2 linked regions of the Homo sapiens genome follow. The protein of the gene in region 1 interacts with the protein of each later gene in a pairwise test. Each region holds a gene or a part of one and is shown on either strand. Other genes may lie near its edges.

Region 1 (4,554 bases):
TCGCAAAAAAAAAAAAAAAAAAAGAATGCAGCTCCCCTCCTTGTCCCAGCCTGGAAGGGGTGGAGAAGATCCTATTCGACCTTCTGGTGCTCCACAGCAGGGCTGGGGCAGCTACCAACTGGGCCTTGAGGTCACCAAGGCCCCTCAGCCATTCTGCACAGACTGTTCCATGATAGGGCACCCCAGAGCACCTGACAACACCTGTCATTGAGAAGCACAGGGGGGCAGTCCCTGTTGAAAATGGAGTGAACCCCAGGAGAGAGTCAGCACCTCTGGGAGTCAGCAGGCTCCCCTGCCAGGCTCAGGAGGTGCAGGGCATGGTGCAGCTGCAGGACTTAAGGCTGTAGGGGAAAGGACATAGGAGAGACCCCGGTCTTCATCTGAACTCTGCCCTTTGTTTAAAATCAAGTGCAGGAAGGCCTGAAACAGGGACCATGGCTTTGAACAAGGCATGCAGAGATTCTTGGGGTTTGCAAGCGACATAGCCACTCACCCATGACCTTAGGGTGTCTTCTGGCTGTTTGTTCTCCATGGCCCCAAAGCAGCTCTCCCACCTGTCTCTGCTTAGCCCACCAAAGGGAGAAGATTCGGGCTCTGGAGCCCCTGAAGGCCAAGCTTGTCACTGTGAATGAGGACTGCAATGAGAGGATCCTGGCCATGAGAGCTGAGGAGAAATATGAAATCTCCCTGCTCAAGAAAGAGAAGATGAACTTGCTAAAACTCATCGACAAAAAGAATGAGGAGAAGATTTCATTGCAGAGCGAGGTGAATGGAAGTGGTGTGATGATGACCAAGTCCCCGAATTCCTGCCAACTCCACGACAAGGGTGACCCCCTACCCTGCTCTGCCTTTCTACGGAGAGTGACACACTGAGCCACCACCTTCCCCCAGAGCCTTGCTAACTCCACCCTCTGCCCTGCTGCTAGGCTCAGTACTTTCCCCACAGGGGGAAACATTGGCACCTTGCCGAATTCTCAGAAATGGCCAATCTCCTTCTTCTTTCACCTTTCCTGTTCACAGTCCCTGATGGGGCCCCCCAGAACCCAGCCCACTCCCTGGGGTGACCAGCTGCATACAGGGGTCCAGGGGCAGCCCCTGACCACACAGCCACCTTCTTGCCAGGTGACCAAACTGAGGAAGAACTTGGCTGAGGAGTACCTGCACTACCTCAGTGAGCGAGATGCCTGTAAGATCCTCATCGCAGACCTGAATGAGCTGCGGTACCAGCGGGAGGACATGTCATTAGCCCAGTCGCCAGGTAAGCCTGAATTGGGAATCGGGTTTCTCTCTTCTCTGAGACGCTGGAAGACTCTGGTCTCACCCCTAAGCCCCATTCATTCAGCATTCCTAAGACCTGCTCATTCCATAACCATTCAGAGGGGAGATGTCCCTGCCTCCCGCAGGGCTGTGTATCTTCTGAGTTGAACTGAGAATTGTAGGAACACAGTTGGTAGCTGAGGCAGCCTAGGCTCCCAGTGGGCTGGACAGGCCTGGTACTCAGTTTCCTGGGCTTCTAGACTTTAGCCTGAAACCCTAGGCTGGTAGTGCTGTGGGCAAGAACCAGGGAACCCCAAACAGGAAGGGCAGAGGGCTTCAGGCAACCCCTGAGAAAGCCACGGTGACACGGGCTGGTGGGCCCCTTCCCCTGGCAGGCATCTGGGGGGAGGACCCTGTGAAGTTAACCCTGGCTCTTAAGATGACCCGGCAAGACCTGACCCGCACGCAGATGGAACTCAACAACATGAAGGCCAACTTTGGAGATGTGGTCCCCAGGAGGGACTTTGAAATGCAGGAGAAGACCAACAAGGATCTTCAGGAGCAGGTGCTGGCAGGCAGGCAGGGCCAGGAGGGTAGGACGGGGTCTCACAGGTGGGGGGCCAGGGCCAATGTCCTTGCCCACAGCTGGACACCCTGAGAGCCAGCTACGAGGAGGTTCGCAAGGAGCATGAGATCCTCATGCAGCTGCACATGAGCACGCTGAAGGAACGGGACCAATTCTTCTCTGAGCTGCAGGAGATCCAGCGCACTTCCACGCCGCGGCCTGACTGGACCAAGTGCAAAGGTGAGGGCAGCCGGCAGGGCCCCAGGTCCTGCTTACATGTGGGCCCAGACTCCAGCTCCCTCTCCCCACATGCAGATGTGGTGGCTGGGGGCCCAGAGCGCTGGCAGATGCTGGCTGAGGGCAAGAACAGCGACCAGCTGGTGGACGTGCTCCTGGAAGAGATTGGTTCGGGGCTGCTGCGGGAGAAAGACTTCTTCCCTGGTCTGGTAGGGGAGGCCCCAGGAGTGGGGCTTGGGCCAGAGTCAGAACAGCCATGCCCTGCTGCTCAGACAAGCTTTTGGGGAACCAACTGGGGATCTTCCCTGATTGGGGGTGGGGCCACAGATGGGTCCAGAGATGAGCTGATATCCTCCCTCCTAGGGCTATGGGGAAGCCATCCCTGCTTTTCTTCGGTTTGATGGCCTCGTGGAGAACAAGAAGCCAAGCAAGAAGGACGTGGTCAACCTCCTCAAGGATGCCTGGAAGGAACGTCTTGCTGAGGAGCAGGTCAGATCTCACCAGCCACTCTGGCCCAGCATGGTCTTCAGATCCAGAGTCCTCTGCAGGTCCAGAGGTGACAGGGATGAGGGCCAACCAACCGTAAGACTCTGACTGAGCATTTCCTCGATCCCGCAGAAAGAGACGTTCCCAGATTTCTTCTTCAATTTCCTGGAGCATCGCTTTGGGCCCAGTGATGCCATGGCCTGGGCTTATACTATTTTTGAAAATATCAAGATCTTCCACTCCAACGAGGTTATGAGTCAGTTCTATGCAGTCTTGATGGGAAAGGTGAGCTGGGGCCTATTCCCCTTGGGGAGACTGAGAGGGGTCTTTGTCCCTAGCATAGACCAGCTTTGCCCCCACCACTCCCAGGAACAGCAGGTGAATAATGCTTCTCTCCTTATAGCGGAGTGAGAATGTGTATGTCACCCAGAAGGAGACAGTAGCCCAGCTGCTGAAGGAGATGACAAATGCTGACAGTCAGAACGAGGGGCTACTAACCATGGAGCAGTTCAAGTGAGAGGCCAGTCCAGGCTACCCCCAACTCCTACCCAACTATTCCTGCATCTGTAGGGAAAAGGGGCACCTGGTGGGAAGGGCCACAGCCTCGGCACTCACTCCCTTTTGAGCACTAGGGAGAGGCACAAGCAGGCCTCAGCAGGTCCCTGTTGGCCCTCATGTCTCCCCTACAGCACTGTCCTCAAGAGTACCTTCCCTCTCAAGACAGAAGAGCAAATCCAGGAGCTGATGGAGGCAGGGGGCTGGCATCCCAGCAGCAGCAATGCAGACTTGCTCAACTACCGCTCACTGTTTATGGAGGTGGGTGTGTGGGGTCCGGGGACTGGCCTGGCCCCTGCCCTAGCCTTGGCTGGACCCTACCCAATGTGCCCTCCCCCTGACTTGTGGCCCCTCCCAGGATGAGGAGGGCCAGAGTGAGCCCTTTGTGCAAAAACTCTGGGAACAATACATGGATGAGAAGGACGAGTACTTACAGCAGCTAAAGCAGGAGCTTGGCATAGAACTGTGAGTGACCCTCATCCATAGGCGAGTCCCACAGGCTGGGCCCCTGAAGCCCCTGGGTCTCCCTGTGCACCATGCACCATCCACTGCTCAGCCCAGCACAGAGGAGGGCACCTGGGAGTCTGGGGCACGGAGAGGAGGGGTCAGGGCCTGTCACTCTCTTTCCTGTGGGGCAGCCATGAGGAAGTGACTCTGCCCAAGCTGCGAGGGGGCCTGATGACCATCGACCCCAGCCTGGACAAGCAGACAGTGAACACCTACATGAGCCAGGCCTTCCAGCTCCCTGAGTCGGAAATGCCAGAGGAGGGTGACGAGAAGGAAGAAGCCGTGGTGGAAATCCTCCAGACTGCCCTGGAGCGGCTTCAGGTGATTGACATCAGGCGTGTGGGACCTCGAGAGCCAGAGCCTGCAAGCTAGGAACTTGTGGGCAGCCTGCGTACTCCAGTCCTGCTAACCCCTAGCTTTTAATATAAAAGTGTTTGTCTGAATCCATGCCATTCTCCAGACTGTGCTGGGGAGTTGTGGGGGGGAATCAGTCCCTGCCTGGCTGGCCCCAGGACATGCACCAAAATGCAGAATATTCTGTTTATGACACTTTATTGATGCTGGGGGGGTGGGGAGGAGACCTGGAGAAATATGTGGGGGCAAGAGTCCCCAGGTGGGGACAGGGAAAGTGTTGAAGCCTGGCCACTACTGGGCAGGGAAGACAGAGTTGCCACTGTATGCACAGGGGATGAGCAGCTGCCGGTACTCCAGGGGCAGGTGCCGCTCCACTAGCACGTGCAGTGAGACTTGGTCAGTGACCAGGCCCTGCCTGCAGTGGAGGAAGAGAAGGGACAGGCAGAATCAGCACCAAAACTCCCCCAGCCAGCACCCCCACACCTTCCGCCTTCTCACCGCCGCATCAGCAGCTCCAGGTCCTCTGGCTTCACAGTCTTGCGGCCAGCATGAGCAGCAAATACCTCCAGATCATCACAAAGATGCTGGAAATA
Region 2 (4,607 bases), on another chromosome or scaffold:
GAAGCTGCAGGTGCTGATCGAGTCAAAGAGCCCTGACATAGCCATGCTTTTTGAAGAAGCCTTTGTGCACCTGAAACCCCAGGTCAGTGAGCTGGATCTTTTGTATTCATTATATTTGGGAAACCTTTTAAGACTAGCCAAGGCTCATTTGGAATGTACTTGTCTATTGAGAGCCAACTCTAGAGTGGCATTTGCTATTCAGTGGTGATGGTTCATAGGTTAAGAGTAGAAGAATTTGCTTCTATTTAATATCCTTTATTTGAAAGTTAACCAAATTAAATAAAACTTCCTATTCTATTTAGATATCTTATAAAGTTAGAAATACCAGTAGAATATTAATGTCACTTGCTGAATATAAGCCCAACCTTTTTTTTTTTTTTTTTTAAGATGGAGTCTCGCTCTGTTGTCCAGGCTGGAGTGCAGTGGCGTGATCTCAGCTCACTGCAATCTCTGCCTCCCGGGTTCAGGCAATTCTCCTGCCTCAGCCTCCCGAGTAGCTGGGACTACAGGCGCATGCCATCACACCTGACTAATATTTTCTATTTTAGTAGAGACAGGATATCTCCATGTTGGCCAGGCTGGTCTGGAACTCCTAGCCTCAAGTGATCTGCCCGCCTTGGCCTCCCAAAGTGCTGAGATTACAGGCGTGAGCCACGGTGTATGGCCAGATTCACTTTGCAGTGAATTTTTTATATTAGTAGGTAAAACGTATTCCAGAAGATAAAGTAGGAAAAAAACTACTGCTCATTTGGTGGTTTTTCCTTTTTTTTGAGATGAAGTCTTGTTCTGTTGCCCAGGCTGGAGTGCAGTGGTGCAAACTTGGCTCACTGCAACCTCCACCTCCCAGGTTCAAGCGATTCTCCTGTCTCAGCCTCCCAAGTAGCTGGGATAAGAAGTGCCCACCACCATGCCCAGCTAATTTTTGTATTTTTAGTAGAGACAGGGTTTTGCCATGTTGGCCAGGCTGGTCTTGAACTCCTGGCCTCAAGTGATCCGCCTGCCTCCGTCTTTAAAGTGCTGGGATTGCAAATGTGCGCCACCATGCCTCGCTTTTGCTGCTCATTTGTACGTACCTCTGGGACATGAATGAAGATCAGATAGTTCAGCCTAGATTAATTAGTTCTTGTGTTGTGGGTCTTAGACAGCAGAGACATGACCTGGGTAGCTGTGGGTCTAACTGTGTGGGCTGTTAATTACTTACTTAACTAAAAGATGATTGATGATAACTACATGAAATATTTCCCAATAGAAAGGAACTAAAATTCACAGAAGAGTGTTGCTCTGAGTGACTTGGTCAGAAGGCTGGCTGTGTTCTGGAGTGCCATTCCTGCTGGGCAATGAGAATTCTGTCACAATGAGGACTGTTTGGGAATGAATCCCTATTTTACATGTTGATTATCTTAGGAGGAACCTGCCTTTTTAACTAGTTTTCAGAGCATAGGACTAAACTGTCATTTTATAGCATAAAAAAATTGATACATAATATTTTACATATTTATAGGGTACATGCGATGTTTTGTTATATGCTGTTCTCTAACTAACATTTTTTAAACTGGGAGTAGGTTTGTCTGCCATTGTGGATTTCCTGGGCAGAGTGGAGTGAAGGTGCCAAAAGCCAAGAAGACACTGAGGCAGTCTTTAAGGTATAGGCTCCGTGTTCCAAGTCTTGTGGTGTGGGGAATGGCAGAAGGTTCCCTGGTTGGTCAGCTCTAGTGTTGCAGGTGCGCCTAAAGCACTATGGAGTGGCCTCAGGTGGTTCTGGGAAAATCTGTTTTGGTATCTATAAGTTTTCTCACATAGCTTCTTTCTTTTTTCTTTTAAATTGTAGAAAGCTCTCTTAGCTGTCATAGGTGCCGACTCAGTAACCCTGAAGAATAAGTACCTGGATTGGGCTTATCGAAGTGGTGGCTACAAAAAGGCCAGAGCTGTGTTTAAAAGGTACTCACAGACGTTCATAGTTGTTACTAGTCCCTCTACCCCATGCTCAGCCGCTCATACCCAGATTATTTGAATCACAGATAGCATCTGAGGGAGTAATCTGATACACTTTTTCTTTTTTTTTAAGATGGAGTCTTGCTCTGTTGCCCAGGCTGGAGTGCAGTGGCACAATCTCTGCTCACTGCAATCTCCGCCTCCTGCGTTCAAGTGATTCTCCTGCCTCGGCTTCCCGAGTAGCTAGGATTACAGGCACCTGCCACCACGCCTGGCTAATTTTTAAATTTTAGATTTTAAAGACAAGGTTTCACCATGTTGGCCAGGCTGGTCTCAAACTCCTAACCTCAGGTGATCTGCCCACCTCAGCCTCCCAAAGTGCAGGGATTACAGGCATGAGGCACCACACCTGACCCAATACACTGTTTCATTTTCCTTTTTTTTTGTTTTTTTTTTGTTTTTTTGAGACAGTGATTCTCCCGCCTTAGCCTCCTGAATAGCTGGGATTACAGATGTGTGACACCACGCCCGGCTAATTTTGTAATTTAGTAGAGACGGTTTCATCATGTTGGCCAGGCTGGTCTCGAACTGCTGATCTCAAGTGATTTGCTTGTCTTGGCCTCTCAAAGTGCTGGGATTACAGGCATGAGCCAGTGCATTTGGCCTCCAGTGAACTTTTTCAAAAAGTAATGTTTCCTTTTCTTTTTTGAGACAGGTTCTCGCTCTGTCACCTAGGTTAGAGTGTAGTGGCACAATCATGGTTCACCGAAGCCTTGACCTTCTGGGCTCAAGCAGTCCGCCCACCTCAGCCTCCCAAATGTCTGGGTCTACAGGCATGTACCACCATGTCCAGCTAACTTAAAACATTTTTTTTTTTTGGTAGAGACTGAGTCTCACAACATTGTTCAGCCTGGTCTCAAACTCCTGGGCTCAAGCAGTCCTCCTGCCTCAGCCTCCCAAAGTGCTAGGATTATAAGTGTAAGCCACCATGCCTGGCCTTCTTTTTCTTTTTTTTGAACAATAAAAGCAGTTCATTGTGGTGGGGGAAAACATAACCATGATAATTTATTACATCATCGAAGGAAAAATTACTGTTAACACATAATTTTAAAATTTGTTTTTATGTAGTTGAGATTATAGTATAACTGTAATTTTATTTATGATTTAAAAAAAATTTCTTTTTTTTTTTGAGATGGAGTCTCACTGTGTTGCCCAGGCTGGAGTGCAGTGGTACAGTCTCGGCTCACTGCAACTTCTGCCTCCCGGGTTCAAGCGATTCTCCTGCCTCAGCCTCCTGAGTAGCTGGGATTACAGGCATGTGCCACGACGCCCGGCTAATTTTTTATATTTTTAGTAGATAAGGGTTTTTGCCATGTTGGCTAGGCTGGTCTCGAACTCCTGACCTCTGGTGACCTGCCCGCCTCGGCCTCCCTAAGTGTTGGGATTACAGGTGTGAGCCACTGTGCCCGGCCTAAATATTTTTTTTTTCTTTGAGACAGAGTCTTGCTCTGTTGCCCAGGCTGAGTGTAATGGCGCCATCTTGGCTCACTGCAAACTCTGCCTTCCTGGTTCAAGTGATTCTTGTGCGTTAGCTTCCCAAGTAGCTGGGACTACAGGTGTGTGCCACCACACCCAGGTAATTTTTTATTTTTAGTAGAGATGGGGTTTCACTGTGTTGCCCAGGCTGGTCTTGAACTCCTGGGCCCAAGCAATCTGCCCAGCTCAGCCTCCCAAAATGCTGGGATTACAGGCATGAGCTACCATGCCTGGCGATGCCCCGCTAATTCTTAAATTTTTTTGCAGAGTCAGGGTCTCGCCTTGTTGCTTAAACTGATCTTGACCTTATGGCTTCCAGTGATCTTCCTGCCTTGGCCTCCCAAAGGGCTGGGATTGTAGGTATGAGGCACTGTGCCCAGCCAAAAATTCTTTATAAACATCATTTATTAAACATAGCTATATGAGCTGGGCACGGTGGTTCAAGGCCTCTAATCTCAGGATTTTGGGAGACTGAGACAAGAGGATTGCTTGATCCCAAGCATTTGAGACGAGCGTGGGCAACACAACGAGACTTCATTTCTATGAAAAGTTAAAAGGCCGGGTGCGGTGGCTCATGCCTGTAATCCTAGCACTTTAGGAGGCCGAGGCGGGCGGATCACAAGGTCAGGAGTTCGAGACCATCCTGGCTAACACGATGAAACCCCGTCTCTACTAAAAAAAATACAAAAAATTAGCCGGGCGTGGTGGCAGGCGCCTGTATTCCCAGCTACTTGGGAGGCTAAGGCAGGAGCATGGCGTGAACCTGGGAGGCGGAGCTTTCAGTGAGCTGAGATCGCGCCACTGCATTCCAGCCTGGGCGACAGAGCAAGACTCCATCTCAAAAAAAAAAAAAAAAAAAACTTAAAAAGTTGGGTGTCATGGCATGTGCCTGTGATTTTAGCTACTTGGGAAGCTGAAGTCAGAGGATCACTTGAGTCCAGGTGGTTGAGGCTGTAGTGAGCCGTGTTTGTGCTAGTACACTCCAGCCTTGGTGACAGAGTGAGACCCTGTCTCAAAACAAAAACATCCAGGTGCGGTGGCTCATGCCTGTAATCCCAGCACTTTGGGAGGTCGAGGCAGACGGATCACGAGGTCAGGAGATCGAGACCATCCTGGCTAATATGGTGAAACCCTGTCTC

Evidence for each region. The genes of interacting proteins can lie anywhere in the genome.
Region 2: the proteins of TSNAXIP1 (region 1) and UTP6 interact in a two-hybrid assay, tested with the Homo sapiens proteins (one large-scale study listed by BioGRID).

Annotation. Positions count from the first base shown.
Region 1 is NC_000016.10:67,824,015-67,828,568, forward strand, and holds the end of TSNAXIP1 (translin-associated factor X-interacting protein 1), read left to right. Parts: intron 1-568; coding exon 569-765; intron 766-1,122; coding exon 1,123-1,258; intron 1,259-1,652; coding exon 1,653-1,822; exon of another isoform or gene 1,823-1,881; coding exon of another isoform or gene 1,882-1,902; coding exon 1,903-2,062; coding exon of another isoform or gene 2,063-2,137; coding exon 2,138-2,268; intron 2,269-2,422; coding exon 2,423-2,548; intron 2,549-2,677; coding exon 2,678-2,830; intron 2,831-2,948; coding exon 2,949-3,058; intron 3,059-3,234; coding exon 3,235-3,361; intron 3,362-3,458; coding exon 3,459-3,565; intron 3,566-3,738; coding exon 3,739-3,979; 3' UTR 3,980-4,054; downstream 4,055-4,554. Other genes in the region: CENPT (centromere protein T), read right to left, coding at 4,253-4,376, 4,460-4,554. UniProt on the Homo sapiens protein: Possible role in spermatogenesis.
Region 2 is NC_000017.11:31,870,709-31,875,315, reverse strand, and holds part of UTP6 (U3 small nucleolar RNA-associated protein 6 homolog), read left to right. Parts: coding exon 1-82; intron 83-1,562; coding exon 1,563-1,643; intron 1,644-1,828; coding exon 1,829-1,938; intron 1,939-4,607. UniProt on the Homo sapiens protein: Part of the small subunit (SSU) processome, first precursor of the small eukaryotic ribosomal subunit.